Linked DNA regions of Homo sapiens: region 2 is linked to region 1. Evidence: fine-mapped expression QTL. Tissue or cell type: whole blood. Region 1 holds a variant in brackets; the other region holds the start of a gene. All regions are shown on one strand. Distances are between the middles of the regions.

Region 1 (8,105 bases):
GTGTTCCCTGACTCCACCAAGGAAAGGAGACTCCCTTTTGCGGTCTGCTACGTCGTGGGTGTCTTCCCAGACACTGGCATTACCGCTTGACCAAGGAGCCCTCAAGCGGCCCTTATGCGGGCGTGACAGAAGGCTCAGCTCTTGCCTTCTAGGTAACTTGTCACAATGTGCTTTCAGCACCTGACCCTATACCCGCTGGTTATTCCTAGGTTATATTAGTAATGCAACAAAGAGTAATATTAAAAGCTAATGATTAATAATGTTTATAATAATGATTGATAATTGTCCACGATCATCTCTATATCTAATTTGTATTATGACTATTCTTATTCTATTTTCTTTATTATACTGAAACAGTTTGTGCCTTTAGTCTCTTGCCTCGGCACCTAGGTAATCCTTCGCCCACAATATATAATAATTAAAAAAATTAAATTTAGCTGTTCATGGTAGCACCTGTAGTCCCAGCTACTCAGGAGTCTGAGGCAGGAGAATCGCTTGAACCTGGAGGCGGAGGCTGCAGTGAGCCGAGATCGTGCCATTGCACTCCAGCCTGGGTGACAGAGCAAGACTCCGTCTCCAAAAAAAAAAAAAAAAAAATGAGGAGACAGAGAAAAATGGAGGAATAGAAGACTGCAGCTATCATCCCCCTCCACAAGGACACCAATTTAACAACTTCATGAGGTGTTAAAAATCAGGTGAGCACTCATAGTACCTGCTCTTAACTTTATAATGCTGAAAGAGACACCGAAGAAATAGCAAAAACAGTCCTGAATCACTGACGCCCCTCTGCCCCTGCAGCTGTGTTGTGGTACTGAGGATATCTCTGCGTGCACGGGAGGGAGAACACAGCAACTGTGATGCACTGAACTCAGTGCTGTCCTGTTACGGCAGGAAGGAAAACCACACCCAACTCAGCTGACGCCTGCCCATGGAGGGAGCATTTAATAACAGCCCTACCCAGAGGGGAATCACTGATCCCAGTGGTCTAAACTTGAGTTCCTGCAAACCTCACCACCGAGGGCTACAGTCTGGGTCTCCAAGTAAACTTGAAAGGCAGCCCAGGCCATGAAGACTGCAGATCTCAGGCGAGTTCTAGTGCTGAACTAGGCCCAGAGGCAGTTAACTGGGAGGGCAGGTGACATACTGAGACACCAGCTAAGGCAGCCAAGGGCGTGCTGGCGTCACCCCTTCCCTAACTCCAGGCTGCACAGCCCGTGGCTCCAAAGGAGACCCTTTCCTTCTGCTTGTGGAGAGGAGAAAGAAGAGTGGGGAGGACTTCATCTTGCATCTTGGATACCAGTTCAGCTGCGGCAGAATAGGGGACTGGGAAGAGTCGTGAGGCCCCCATTCCAGGCCCTAGTTCCCAGATGACATTTCTAGACACACCATGGGTCAGAAGGAAACCCACTACCTTGAAGAAAAGGACTCAGTCCTGGCAGCATTCATCACCTGCTAACTGAAGGTTGGCAGGACCCTGAATAACCAGCAGTTACATTTAGGTACTATGTCAAGGCCCTTGGTTGAGCCTCTGAGACTTGCTGGCTTCAGGTGAGACTCAGCACATTACTAGCTGTGGTGGCAACAAGGCAAAACTCCTTCTGTTTGAGAAAAGCAGAAGGAAAAGTAAAGAGGGCTTTGTCTTGCACCTTAGGTACCAGCACAGCCACAGTGGGGTAAAGCACCAAGTGGGCTCTTGAGGTCTCCGATTCCAGGACTTGACTGTTGGACACCATTTCTGCACCTGCCCCAGGCCAGAGGGGAACCCATTGCCCTGAAGGGCGAGTCCCAAGGCAGGAAGCATTCAACACAAGCTTGACTTAAGATACCTCGATGCTTAAGGGAATATTGGAGGTAGCCTGGCAGTACTCCTCGTGGCCTGGGTTGACAGTGGCTATGGGGTGAGGCTCCTCTGCATTTGGGAAGGGAAAGGAAGAGTGGGAAGGACTGCATCTGGTGGTCTGAATACCAGCTCAGCCACAGTACAATAGAACACCAGCTAGACTTCCAAGTTTTTTTACTCTAGTCCCTGATTCCCAAAAGGCACCTCTGGACTCACCTGGGGCCTGGGGGACCTCACGGCTCTGAAGGGAAGGACACAGGCCTGGCCGGCTTTGCCACCAGCTAATTGTAGAGCCCCAGGGCCTTCAGCAAACATAGGCAGTAGCCAGGAAGTGGTTACAGCCAGCCTTGGCAAGCCCCACTGCTGTGCTGGCTTCAGGTCTGACCCAATGCAGTCATAGTGGTGGTGGCCACAGGGATGCTTGTGTCACTCCACCGCCGGCTTTATGTGGCTCAGAACAAGGAGAGTGAGACTCTTTTTGCTTGGAAGAAAGTAACAGAATGGAACAGGAGTCTCTCTGCCTGATAATGCAGAGAATTCTTCTGGATCTTTTCCAAGACCATCAAGGTAGTACCTCCATGAGTCTGCAAGAAAACAGTGTTACTGGGATTGGGGTGCTCTCTAAATCAGATACAGCTTACATCACAATATCCAAGTACTTTCAAATATCTGGAAAGCCTTTCTAAGAGGGATGGGTACAAATAAGCCTAGACAGTGAAGACTACAATAAATACTTCACTCTTCAATGCCCAGACACTGAAGAACATTTACTAACATCAACACCATCCAGGAAAACATGACCTCCCAAATGAACTAAATGAGCCACCAGGGACCAATCCTGGAGAAACAGAGATGTGTGACCTTTCAGGCAGAGAATTCAAAATAGCTGTGTTGAGGAAACTCAAGAAATTCAAGATAACACAGAGAAGGAATTCAAAATTATATCAGATACATTTAACAAAAAGATTAAAATAAAAAGAATCAAACTGAGATTCCAGAGCTAAAAATGCAATTGGCATACTGAACAATGCATTAGAGGCTTTCAGTAGCAGAATTGATCAAGCAGAAGAAAGAATTAGTGAGCCTGAAGACAGGCTATTTGAAAATACACAGTCAGGGCCAGTCATGGTGGCTCATGCCTGTAATCACAGCATTTCAGGAGGTCGAGGCAGAAGGATCACTTGAGCCCAGGAGTTTGAGTCTAGCCTAGACAATGTAGTGAGACCCCCCCCCTCCTTAAAAAAATAAAAAAGGCCAGGCGCAGTGGCTCATGCCTATAATCCCAGCACTTTGGGGAGGCCAAGGCAGGTGGATCACCTGAGGTTGGGAGTTCGAGACCAGCTTGACCAAGATGGAGAAACCCTATCTCTACTAAAAATACAAAATTAGCCGGGTATGGTGGCACATGTCTGTAATCCCAGCTACTTGGGAGGCTGAGGCAGGAGAATAGCTTGAACCTGGGAGGCGGAGGTTGCAGTGAGCCAAGATCATACCACTGCACTCCACCCTGGGCAACAGAGCCAGGCTCCATCTCAAAACAAAACAAAACAAAAAAAAGAGCTAAAGAGAGAGTTAGGCCCCAATACAATAATAGCTGGAGACTTCGACACCCCACTTTCAGCACTGGATGGATCTTCCAGGCAGAAAAATCAATAAAGAAACATCAGACTTAATCTGCACAATAGACCAAATGGATCCAGTAGATAATTACGGAACATTTCATCCAATGGCTGTGGAATACACATGCTTTTCCTCAGCATATGGATCATTCTCAAGGATGGATCATTTTAATAAGAAATTTAAAAATTTCTTGGAACAAATGCTAATGGGAGCACAACATACCAAAATCTATGGGATACAGCAAAAGCAGTACTAAGAGGGAAGCTTATCGTTATAGTGCCTACATCAAAAAAGAGGGAAACTTATAGTGCCTACATTAAATAAACAATCTAATGATGCATCTTAAAGAATTAGGAAAACAAGAGCAAACCAAATCCAAAATTAGTAGAAGAAATAATAAAGATCAGAACAGAAATAAATGAAATTAAAATGAAGTAAACAATACAAAAATCAATGAAACAAAAAGTTGGTTTTTTGAAAAGTTAAGCAAAATTGACAAGCTTTTAGCCAGACTAAGAAAAAAAGAGAGATCTAAATTTACCTTCAGTATTGAAAATAATGCGAAGATGAAATACATAGCATATCGAGTTGGCATTATGTGTAAAGGGGCAGAAGCCATACATGATTAAATAATTTGGCATAAGAGATTTCTTGTATTTTTGGCCTGTGTTTTCACTTCTATGATCTTCAAAACACTCACAGTACTTGTATTTGGGGAGTGGTTGTGGTCTACAAATTTCGTAAGTACCTGCTGTCCATCTGAAAGTCTGGTTATTTCTCAGCCATTGCAATTAGGTGATTTTCTACGTTTGCAGCACGAATAACAATTAACTTTTAAACTGTTTCACTGTTAAGTAGCCTCATACACTTAACACAGCCTTTTTGCAAGGGAACAATTTCACAGATCTCTTCCATTGTGTGGTAAGCAATACAGTAAGAAGAAATGATGTTCAGCTTCCCCAATACCAAATCTGTATTAGTCAGGGTTCTCTAGAGAGACAGAACCAATAGGATATGAGAGGAAATTTATTAGGGAACTTGGCTCATGCAATTATGGTGGCTGAAAAGACCCACGGTGAGGCCATCCGAAAGCTGGAGACCTTGGGATACCGGTAGCATGGTTC[A/G]GTCCAACTCCAAAGGCCTCAGAACCAGGAAAGCTGATGGTGCAACTATCCATCTGAGGCCAAAAGCCTCAGGATCCAGGGGGCCACTGGTGTAAGTTCCGGAGTCCGAAGGCTGGCAAACCTGGAGTTCTGGGTCCAAGACAGGAGAAGAAAAGTCTGTCCCAGATCTCAGAGAGAGACCAATTTGCCTTCTATATTTGTTCTGTTTGGGACCCTGGTCAAGTAGTTGGTGCCTCCCAACAATGAGGGCAGATCATCCCCCACTTAGTCCACTCAGACTCACATTCTAATCTCTGAAAACACTCTCACAGCCACATCCAAAATAATGCTTTACCAGGTTTCTAGGTATTCCTTAATCCATTCAAGTTGACACCTAAAATTATGTCCACTGTCCACCCCTTGTCAATTTGGCACTCATTTGCATCCCCTTAAATCACACTTAATTTCCAAATAAAGACAAAAAGGCTATGGTTCTGCTTGACATGACACAACTAACATGATGCAACCATCCTGTGTACAACCAAAAAATACACTAATCCCCTTCCCCAGAATTTGGCTTTCAGGGTTTCAACATTGAGGATTTTAATCTTTTGGGATTGTAATTTTCAGGATTTTAGACATGAGGGATTTAGACTTTAGAAATTTTGAACTTTAAGGATTTTGATCTTTTGGGACATCAACATTTGGGGTTTGGCATTCAGGATTGTGTCTTTCAGGATTATGATTATGAGGCAGAATTGCTTGAACCCGGGAGGCAGAGGTTGCAGTGAGCCAAGATCACACCACTGCACTCCAGCCTGGGTGACAAGAGCAAAACTCTGTCTCAAAAAGAAAAAAATTCCATTGTTGTCTGAGAACATACAGTGTATAATTTCTATTCTTTTACATTTTGAGGTGTGTTTTATGGCCCAGGTTGGTCTACCTCAGTGAACGCTCCAAGTGAGCTGACAAGAGTGAGTACTCTGTTGTTGCAGGACGAAGCAGTCTATGGATGTCAATTATATTCAGTTGATTGGTGGTGCTGTTGAGTACAACAATGTCCTTACTGATTTTCTACTTACTGGATCTGTCCTTTGCTGATAGGCATTGAAGTTGAGATCTCCAACTATAATAGTGGATTCATCTATTTCTCCTTGCAGTTTTATCAGTTTCTGCCTCATGTATTTTTTGATACTCTTGCTGACACTCTGATTTTATTTTATTTTATTTTATTTATTTATTTTGAGACGGAGTTTCACTCTGCTGCCCAGGCTGGAGTGAAGTGGTGTGATCTCAGCTCACTGCAACCTCCACCCCCAGGATTCAAGTAATTCTCCTGCCTCAGCCTCCCAAGTAGCTGGGATTACAGGCATCCGCCACCATGCCTGGCTAATTTTTGTATTTTTAGTAGAGATAGGGTTTCGCCATATTGGCTAGGCTGGTCTCAAATTCCTGACCTCAGGTGATCCACCTGCCTCAGCCTCCCAAAGTGCTAGGATTACAGGCGTGAGCCACCACGCCTGGCTGACACTCTGGTTTTAAATAAGCATTTTATCATTCTATTTCTCTCCTCTCTTAGCATAACAATTATATTTCTTTAAAAAGTTTTTTAATAGTGATTTAGAGTTTGCAATATACATTTACAACTAATCTAAGTCAAGTTTCAAATAACACTATACTGTGTCATGGTTGTGCGGATACTTCATAACAGGGTATTCCCAATTCCTTCCTCCCATCACTTACACTCCAGTCATTCACTTCAGTTATCCCTAGGCTATAGCTATCCACACATTGTTGCTATAATTCCTTTAAATAAAGTTATCTATTAAATCAATTAAATTTTTTAAAAAGATTTTACCTTCCTGTTTTTTTGCTCTGATACTCTTCCTTTCTTTATGTAGATCTGAGTTTCTAATCCATATCATTTTCCTTCTCTCTGGAAACCTTACTTTAACATTTCTTGCAAAGTATGTCTCCTGGCAAAAAAAGAATCCTTTTTTTTTTTTTTGAGACAGGGTCTCACACTATCACCCAGACTGGAGTGCAATGGTGCAATCTCAGCTCACTGCAACCTCCACCTCCCTGGCTCAAACAATCCTCCCATTTCAGCCTCCCAAGTAGCTGAGACCACAGGCACACACCACCATGCCTGGCTACTTTTATATTTTTTGTAGAGACGGGGTTTCGCCATGTTGCCCAAACTGGTCTTGAACTCCTGGGCTCAAGCAATACACCTGCCTTGGCCTCCCCAAATGTTGGGATTATAGGTCTGAGCCACTATGCCCAGCCTTAAATTTCCTTAGTTTTAGTCTTCATTTCTCCTTCACTATTTCTTTTTTTCAATTTGATTTTCTCTTTGCTTTTCTCCTTCACATTTGAAGGATAATTTTGCTGGATAAAATCCTATGTTTGTGAAGTTTTTCTTTTAACATCATAAATATTTCCATTCTGGCTCTTGCTTGCATGATTTCTGACAAGAAATCCAATGTTATTCATGTTTCTCTATATGTGTTTTTTTCTTCTGGCTTCTTTCAAGATTTTATGTTTTTGGTTTTCTACAGTTTAGATATACATCTAGGTGTCAATTTTTTGGTAGTTATTCTGCTTGGCCTTTTCTTAGCTTCCTGGATCTGTGGTTTAGTGTCTATTATTCATTTCAGAAAATTCTTAAACATTATTTCAAATTTTTTTTTTTTTTTTTTTTTTTTTGAGAAGGAGTCTCCCTCTGTTGCCCAGGCTGGAGTTCAGTGGCGTGCTCTCGGCTCACTGCAAGCTCTGCCTCCCGGGTTCATGCCATTCTCTTGCCTCAGCCTCCCGAGTAGCTGGGACTACAGGCGCCTGCCACCACTCCTGGCTAATTTTTTGTATTTTTAGTAGAGACGGGGTTTCACCATGTTAGCCAGATCTCCTGACCTCGTGATCCGCCCACCTCGGCCTCCCAAAGTGCTGGGATTACAGGTGTGAGCCACCGTGCCCGGCCTATTTCAAATATTTCTTCTCTTCCTCTTTCTTTTCCTTCTGGTATCCCCATTACACATGTGACACGACAGAGTCTCGCTCTGTCGCCCAGGCTGGAGTGCAGTGGCGTGATACCAGCTCACTGCAAGCTCTGCCTCCCGGGTTCACGCCATTCTCCTGCCTCAGCCTACCAAGTAGCTGGGACTATAGGCACCCACCACCACTGGCTAATTTTTTGTATTTTTTAGTTGAGACGGTGTTTCACCGTGTTAACCAGGCTGGTCTCAATCTCCTGACCTTGTGATGTGCCCGCCTCGGCCTCCCAAAGTGCTGGGATTACAGGCGTGAGCCACCGCGCCTGACCACATGTGACACCTTTTATATTGTTCTCCAGTTCTTGGATATTCTGTCCCAATTTTTTTTTTTTCATTCCTTTTTCTCTTTGCATTTCAGTTTAGGAAGTTTCTATTGACATATTATCAGGCTGTTTCTTTCCTTGGCCAAGTAGACTAATGATAAGCCCATCAAAGGCATTCATTTCTGTGAGAGTGTTTTTTTCTTTATTTCTAGCATTTCAAATCTTT
Region 2 (8,105 bases), 280 kb after region 1:
TGGAAAACAGTATGACAGTTCCTCAAAAAATTAAACATAGAATTACCATAAGATCCAGCAATACCACTTCTGGATATACATATATATACCGAAAAGAATTGAAAGCAGGTCCTGAAGAGATCTTTGTACACCCATGTTCCCAGCAACATTATTTCCAGTAGCCAAAAGGTGGCGCAACCCAAATGTCCACTGTTAGATAGATGAATGGATAAACAAAATTCATATCCATACAATAGAATATTATTCAGTCTTAAAAGGAAGGGAATTCTAACACATACAACCTGGATGAGCTTTGAAAACATTCTAAGTGAAATAAGCCAGTCACAGAAAGACAAATCCTCTATTATTTCACTTATATGATGTATCTAGAGTAGTCAAACTAATTGAAACAAAGTAGCACAGTGGTTGCCAGCATCTGGATGGAGATTGAAAGGGGAGTTTAATGAGCATAAAGTTTCAGTTTTGCAAAATGATAAAGTTCTGCAGATCGGTTGCACAGTAATGTGCATATATAGTTAACACTACTGAACTGTACATTTAAAAACGGTTACAGTGGTAAATTTTGTTACATACATTTTATGTTACATGTATTTTACCACAATTAAATATTTTTTAAAAATCCTTCCCCAGGTATCACTCCCCCTCCTCCCTGCTTCTGTGTGAATTAACAACTCCCTCCTTTGCACCTCTACATTATCTTGCGTATACCACCATTATGGCTCTTATTACATTTTTGGTAATTACGTGTTTGACAGGATAAGGGTTACTGTCCCATTTGCCCCATCCTGGGACAGGTGAATACTTATCCACTCCTGGGGTCCTGACTAGAAGCTAGGAAAATATACTAGGGTCTTTGGCAAGACAGAGAAAAGAGGCAGTGACCCCTATGGCATAATTGGCTAAAGAGGACCGTCGTTATCAGCAAGAATATATCTTGGATCTTGTAGATGTTTCACTCTGAGGCTGGACCTGGAAGGACCATTTTTCTTCAACAATCCTTTTATAGGCAGGCTCTGACAAACCTAAGTAACACTTCTTTCCTCCCTCAACACACAAAAACATCTTCTCCATTATGAGGACAGCCAGCTGAAATGACTGGTCATACCTGGTCTGACCCACAGGAGGGAAAAGAGAAAGATGTTCATTCAAGATGGATTCAAGGGCCGGGCACAGTGGCTCACGCCTGCAATCCCACCACTTTGGGAGGCCAAGGCTGGCGGATCACAAGGTCAGGAGATCGAGACCATCCTGGCTAACGCAGTGAAACCCCCGTCTCTACTAAAAATACAAAAAAAAAAAAAAAAAAAAAAATAGCCGGGCGTGGTGGCGGGCACCTGTAGTCCCAGCTACTCGGGAGGCTGAGGCAGGAGAATGGCGTGAACCCGGGAGGCAGATCTTGCAGTGAGCCGAGATCAGGCCTCTGCACACCAGCCTGGGCAACAGAGCGAGACTCCGTCTCAAAAACAAAAACAAACAAACAAACAAAAGATGGATTCAAGATAGAACAGCTGACCTAATAAGGTTCTCAGGGGGGACAATAAGGAACTATTTTTGCTTCCCTTAGACTCCTTGTATGTAAGTTTGATACCTAATTAAATTTTTTTTTCCGATAATGGACTGTAACTTTCTGCCCTTCCAAGGTCATAGTCAAGAGGTTACATTTGTTTGCTCCATCTTTGCTTCTAGATGGGAGCTCCTTTAGGGGCGGGACCAGACTTTATTCATCCTTGGATCCCCTGTGCCCACTGGTCCTGGCACATAGCAGATGCCCAATAAATGCCAAATAAATGACTGAATGTTTAGAATGAGGGTCTTTACAGCATTGAGCCTTTCCAATAACCCGGAGAGAGGCTTTTGGCCGAGCAACTAGTCTACCCCAGAGAGAAAGGACAGTCTGAACTAGAGAGCCACAGGGAGTAGGAAGGTCTGCTGGGTATGGGGAGCAGAGGGAGCATGAGAAGAAAACGTGGTTCATTACATAGCCCAGGTTGAACAGACAGATGAAAATCGCACCCTCCAGCTTCATGTTCCACTGTCTGACTGGTCATTATATAGGGCCGACATTTATCTGGTCTCCAGGCAAATTCTATAATTTCAGCTCCGTCTGAAGCAACACAGTAACACTGACTCAGTGGCCTAGATTCCACAAGTGCCACATACCTTGCTTTAGCTTAAATCAGGCATTGTTTTGTCTGGCTGCTAGGACTGGCTCAGGTCTGCTAACAATAAGATGCTTATGCATGGCCCTTTCATGCAGTCAGTCTTTTAAATTTTTTTGCCTCTCTTGAAATCCTGGAAATGATTCCTAACAACGGTTAATCTAAAAATCAGCTGGTTTTGGTCAATATAATGGCGCCCCTTCGAACTCACATTCATGGAATATGGAAGCTGGAAGGAAGAGTAGAAACTAGTTCTGCTTCTCAGGTAAGGAAATCCGTGCCCAGAGAGTTGGGCTGGGTTCCAGCCAGTTAAAACTAGAACTCAGAGATGCTGTCCCGAGCCCTTTTACTTCTGCTGCCTGCCCGCAATTGCGGTCACACCTGCTTCAGACACTTCCAGCTCAATCCTCCCTCCATTTTCTGTGCAACTAGGGTCCTCTCTGGAGAGCTCTTAAGCCATCAGCTCTAGGAGAGAAGTGGGCAGACACAAATCTTTCACAGGTTAATTTTCCTTGGAACATTCTGGGTGATTTTTTTGTAAAGCCCGATTCTCAATGGTGTTGATTTCAGGGTAGTGTTCCTCACTGAGAGCTAAGGAGGCGTTGCAGAAGTGCGCTGATTAGCTAGAATTGACCATAAACAGAGTGGCGCGGCGGATGGGCAAAGGGTGGGCAGCGAACTGGCCCAAATCATCTGTGCATCACCTCACAAGCACCAACTGAGCACTTACTGTGTGCCTGGGTAATCCACAGCTGCCTAATTAAGAACGAGCAGCTGCCTTCCAACCCTCCCCTGGCCCGAGGAGCCCTACTAACTGGCAGATTGAGGGACTTCTGATTCTCATCGTGGGTCTGGCCTTAACTAGGGTCGCGACTCCAAGCAAGTATTTAAAATTCTCCAACCCAGGTGGCCTGAGGCTTGAGAAGAAATAAAAGGCTTCTCAAAGGGATGACAGTTTCGGGAAGTTTTTTTTTGGGGGGGGGACTGGAAAAATACCATAAAAGGCATTTTGGGGGTCACACACACACAAGAGCAGAAGCGCTGTGAGCCGCCCTGCAGGCTCCCTGCCCCGGGAGCCACCTTCCACCCGCCCCCGGGCGGAGGCGGCCAACTCCCGCCCAGCGGGCTCCCCAGTTCGGCCCCGAAAAGCCGAAAGGGGGGCGCCTTTGTCTATAAGCGCCGCACGGGCGCTCCTGATTGGCTGTAGCTAAGCAGGGCTTTCTTCCGCGCTCCTTCGGAGCGCTCCCTCCAGCGTCGCCGGCCCCGTTCCATTTTCACAGCTCCTCCTCCCCGGCCGCGCGCCCCTCCCGCCCCGCGCGCGCCTCCTCTTTCTCGCGGCCGAGTTCAGCCCGGGCAGCCATATGGGGGATACGCCAGCAACAGACGCCGGCCGCCAAGATCTGCATCCCTAGGCCACGCTAAGACCCTGGGGAAGAGCGCAGGAGCCCGGGAGAAGGGCTGGAAGGAGGGGACTGGACGTGCGGAGAATTCCCCCCTAAAAGGCAGAAGCCCCCGCCCCCACCCTCGAGCTCCGCTCGGGCAGAGCGCCTGCCTGCCTGCCGCTGCTGCGGGCGCCCACCTCGCCCAGCCATGCCAGGCCCGGCCACCGACGCGGGGAAGATCCCTTTCTGCGACGCCAAGGAAGAAATCCGTGCCGGGCTCGAAAGCTCTGAGGGCGGCGGCGGCCCGGAGAGGCCAGGCGCGCGCGGGCAGCGGCAGAACATCGTCTGGAGGAATGTCGTCCTGATGAGCTTGCTCCACTTGGGGGCCGTGTACTCCCTGGTGCTCATCCCCAAAGCCAAGCCACTCACTCTGCTCTGGGGTAAGTCCCGCCGGCGCCCCCTGCGCCCCGGCCTCCGTGGCCAGGCCGCGCTGGGGCGCGCGAGGTCGCCGCTCGCCCCTCGGCTGCGGGCGGTGCGCAGCGACCCCCGGTCTCCCCTCGCCTCCCGCTGCGCGCCGCGGCCCCCTTGGCATCCAGTTTTCCGTCCCTTGGGACGGGCAGGTGTTTCTGTCCCAGTATTTCAACTTCCGCCCCCCCCCCGCCCCCACCCCGCCGCGGTCTGCCTGAGGAAGCGCATTTGCCGGCTTCCCGATGGAGAGCCGGGGGGGACCCGGAGTCCTGCGGTGCCACCGCTGTGCGCAGAGGCGCGCGAAGGGAGAGGCTCGGCACAGGCTGAATCGGCTCCCAGCGAGGGAGGACGGGCGGGCGATTGTGTCACCTCTGCGGTCCCTGGGGCTCTCCTATCCCCCCCATCACCTCCGCGGGTCACGGACCTTGGGGACAGAGATGAGGACAAGTAAGGGAGTTGGACCGGGGAGGAGAGACCCGGCACAGGATAGAGTCTTGGTTTACGCGCACCAGATGGAAGATACCGGTTCCCCTCTTGCCTCTCCAAGGCCCCTGTCCCTGCCCCCTCCGCAATCTTCTATGCCCATTTGCAGTTCTCGGTGAAGTTTCTCGGTGAGCAAACCGATCCCATGGCGAGAGCGGTCTGACCCTAGCACGAAGCTCCGACTGTGGCTGTGCAGAGCCTTCTCCAAACCCTGTTCCCATGTGGCCAGTGGGAACCTGTGGCTCTCCTGGTACCCTCCTTCCGTGCACCCCCACTCCTGCCAGTAGGGAAGGGAGCCCGGGCGCCGACCACCATTCCCCTTCCCCTGGGCCCCAGGGACTGCGTGCCCACCCTACACGACCCCAGTCGTTGATCTTTGAACCACTTCGCAGCCGCCCTGGCCGCAATAACTGGTTTTGGCCTCCTTTACTGAAGCGGCAGTAGCCAGGACAAAAGGCACAGGCATTGATATGCTGAGTGAGAATTTGACGAGGTAATCCAAGATGCCCTTCCAGCTCCCGTTTCCCTGATCTCTAGGGGCGGGCAGGAGAAACACAACCTACTTTTATTTCCAGAGGGGAAGAGGAAGGAAGAAAATAAGACCTCTTTCTACAGGGCTTTTTTGGCATGGTGCCAGCTGCAAATGCCTAGGTAGATAATGGGGCCACTATGGTTCCAAGCCTTCCCTTGAAATCCTGCAGTCCCTGCTCTTGGAAGTAAACCCATCCAGAAGTGGGTACCTCTTAGGGGGTGTGGCTCAGGGAGGGCATAGCAGAGTTGACGGATGGTGAGAGAGGTAGGATCTTTGGGGATCCCTAAAGCCTTTAAAGTCTCCCCAAAGCTCTGGGAAATCTCCTGCTTCATCTTTCCTTCTCTCAGTGCACCTCCTCATTTCTGTGTCCTTTTCACCATCACCTTTATGTGTTGGTTTAATTCTCCAACTGACTGTAGACTGTATGATGTTCAGCTGTTGCTTCATCAACACACTCCGACACTGCCAACCAAAGCCCTTATTGCCCAGAGTTCTCCAACAAGCTCCTCTCTCCCCCCTGCTTCCAGAGGCAGGGCTGGGCTTGGTCCTCAGAGCCTGGTGACCTCTAGGGGATTGAGGCTTATCTTTAATAGCTGTGGTGTTCAGAGAGTGCTCAGGGAAAAGTGAGCACTTAAAATATTATCTTACATGCCTAGGGCTCACTGGCTCCACTTCTTACAGCCTCTGAGCCCCAAGACCCTGGCACTGGACCAGGAGCCACAAGGACAAGGCCCCTCTCTCCAAGTTTGCCAGGTCACCTCTGCCCTTTCCGGACCGCTCTCTGTGGTGAAGATAGAACCTTTGTTCTGAAAGATCTTGGCTTAGAGGACACCTCCCAGGCCCCAGTGTCCTCTAGCTTCCTTAGAGAAGTTAACACACTGAAGGAATCTGGTTTCCCCTTTGTGACTCATGTCCCAAACCCCATTCCATACCTTCCTGGATAAATTCTGCCTGTGCTTCATCTGCTATTTCCTAAGTCTTTTTTTTTTTTTTGAGACAGAGTCTCGCTCTGTCGCCCAGGCTGGAGTGCAGTGGTGCGATCTCGGCTCACCGCAAGCTCCGCCTCCTGGGTTCACACCATTCTCCTGCTTCAGCCTCCCAAGTAGTTGGGATTACAGGTGCCCGCCACCACGCCCGGCTAATTTTTTGTATTTTTAGTAGAGATGGGGTTTCACCGTGTTAGCCAGGATGGTCTCAATCTCCTGACCTCGTGATCCACCCACCTCAGCCTCCTAAACTGCTGGAATTACAGGCGTGAGCCACTGCGCCCGGCCCGTAAGTCTTAATTCTCTCCCCACCTTCATTGCCTCCCTAAAAAAAAAAATAGCAGACAATGGTAGATATTAGAGTTTTAAGGTCCAAAATTGTGACTTAGAAACAGTCCAAACAATGGGTCTTATCTGATGAATAGCTACTGCCTCTGCTGCTTTTTTTTTTTTTTTTTTTTTTTTTTGTGAGACAGGGTCTTGCTGGAGTGCAGTGGCACGATCATAGCTCACTGCAGTCTCAGTCTCCTGGGCTCAAGCAATGCTCCCACCGCAGCCTCCCAAGTAGCTGGGACTACAGGTGTGCACCACCACACCTGGCTATTTTCTTTTTCATTTTTTTGTAGAGATGGGGGTCTCACCATGTTGCCCAGGCCGGTCTTGAATTCCTGGGCTCAAGCAGTCCTCCCAAAGTACTGGGATTACAGGCGTGAGCCACTGTACCCAGTCTCATGAATAGCTTTTGAGGGAAGAAATGAGGGACAATCAGAGACCAGCTAAGATCAGCTGTGCTGATGGCTAGGCTACATAGTAAGCAGAGGGACGAGGCAGACCACTGACTCAGGGTTATTTTCAGTGAAAGCCCTGGTGCCTTGATCCACAAATTTCCCCCCACTGAAGGCCCTTTTTCACCACCTCCCTACTGGTTATGTGTAGCATTAGGGCCAAGTTCATGCCCCAGTGGGCTGCTCATGCACTTCAAGGACCTGACTTGTAGAGGAAATAGGCTTAGCCTGTCCATTGCTTGCCACCCTCCACACCAGATGAGGTTGTGCTGGAAACAAGAGGCATCTATGCAGTGCACCCAGCAGGGGATGTGTTGGATGTGCAGTGTGCAGAGAGTAATTTGTGTGGTGGTAAAATGTCATCCGTGAAAGAGCCATCAAATTGTTAGTTCATCAAGTTGTTAGTTCTCCTTGGGGCCAGAGCATGTTGTTTTCCCTTTTTATCCTTTTCGTTTTATGAGTGGGCAGGCTGTCAGGACAGAATGCTCTTGGTGCCCCCAGGTCCTCAGCAATGCGTTCATGACTTTCAAGGACAGAAAGCGGCCGGGCATGGTGGCTCACGCCTATAATCCCAGCAGTTTGGGAGGCCGAGGCGGGCTGATCACAAGGTCAGGAGATCGAGACCATCCTCGCTAACACGGTGAAACCCCATCTCTACTAAAAAAAATACAAAAATTAGCCGGGCGTGGTGGTGGGCACCTGTAGTCCCAGCTACTCGGGAGGCTGAGGCAGGAGAATGGCGTGAACCTGGGAGGTGGAGCTTGCAGGGAGCCGAGATTGCGCCACTGCACTCCAGCCTAGGCGACAGAGTGAGACTCCGTCTCAAAAAAAAAAAAAAAAATGGACAGAATGCAAACTCCAACTAGAGGAAAAACCTGCATCTGAAGGCTTGAGCTCACAAAAATGCCTGCTTGAGAGTTTCTGGCCAAAGGGACAGTTAGTCAATGCCCTGAATCCCAAGATGGGTAGAGCAGGGAGTGAGGCCTTGCAGTTACTGTGTGGACGTGTGAGTCCTGGGGCTGCTTCCCAGCGGAGCCTCCCCTGATGGCCTCCAGACATCTGGCTGTTGGCTCCCAGAAACATCAAGGCCTTTTCTGTTTTTTCCCTAAATGTCATCCGAGTCCCCTAAATGTGTCCCATAGTGACATCATGACTCTTTTCCTCATGAGATAACTTCAGTGACAGCACCAGGCATGCAAAGCAGTAATTTTCCCTGTTTCCTTTGATAGATCAGCCATCCTTCTATCCTGTCTTGGCGCAAACGTGACCATTGTTAAGGCAGATATAGCGTTCTCTGGTGCCCTGCTGGG

What was found. PIP is the estimated chance that this variant, and not a neighbour inherited with it, causes the effect.
Region 2: it holds the start of SCD5, and the variant in region 1 is fine-mapped to the expression of SCD5 in whole blood (TOPMed, PIP 0.97).

What each region holds. Positions count from the first base shown.
Region 1 is chr4:83,077,049-83,085,153 of GRCh38, reverse strand. No RefSeq gene overlaps it. Among named protein-coding and RNA genes, the nearest start is that of PLAC8, 34 kb to the left of the region's middle. RefSeq lists an enhancer at 752-801. The variant A/G (reference allele first, on the strand shown) is at 4,585.
Region 2 is chr4:82,794,182-82,802,286 of GRCh38, reverse strand. It overlaps SCD5 (stearoyl-CoA desaturase 5), which reads left to right and starts at 3,491. Exons shown (of 5, transcript NM_001037582.3): 1 at 3,491-3,981. The coding sequence starts at 3,750. RefSeq lists enhancers at 2,333-3,049, 3,050-3,767, 4,744-5,265 and silencers at 3,136-3,555, 3,886-3,935.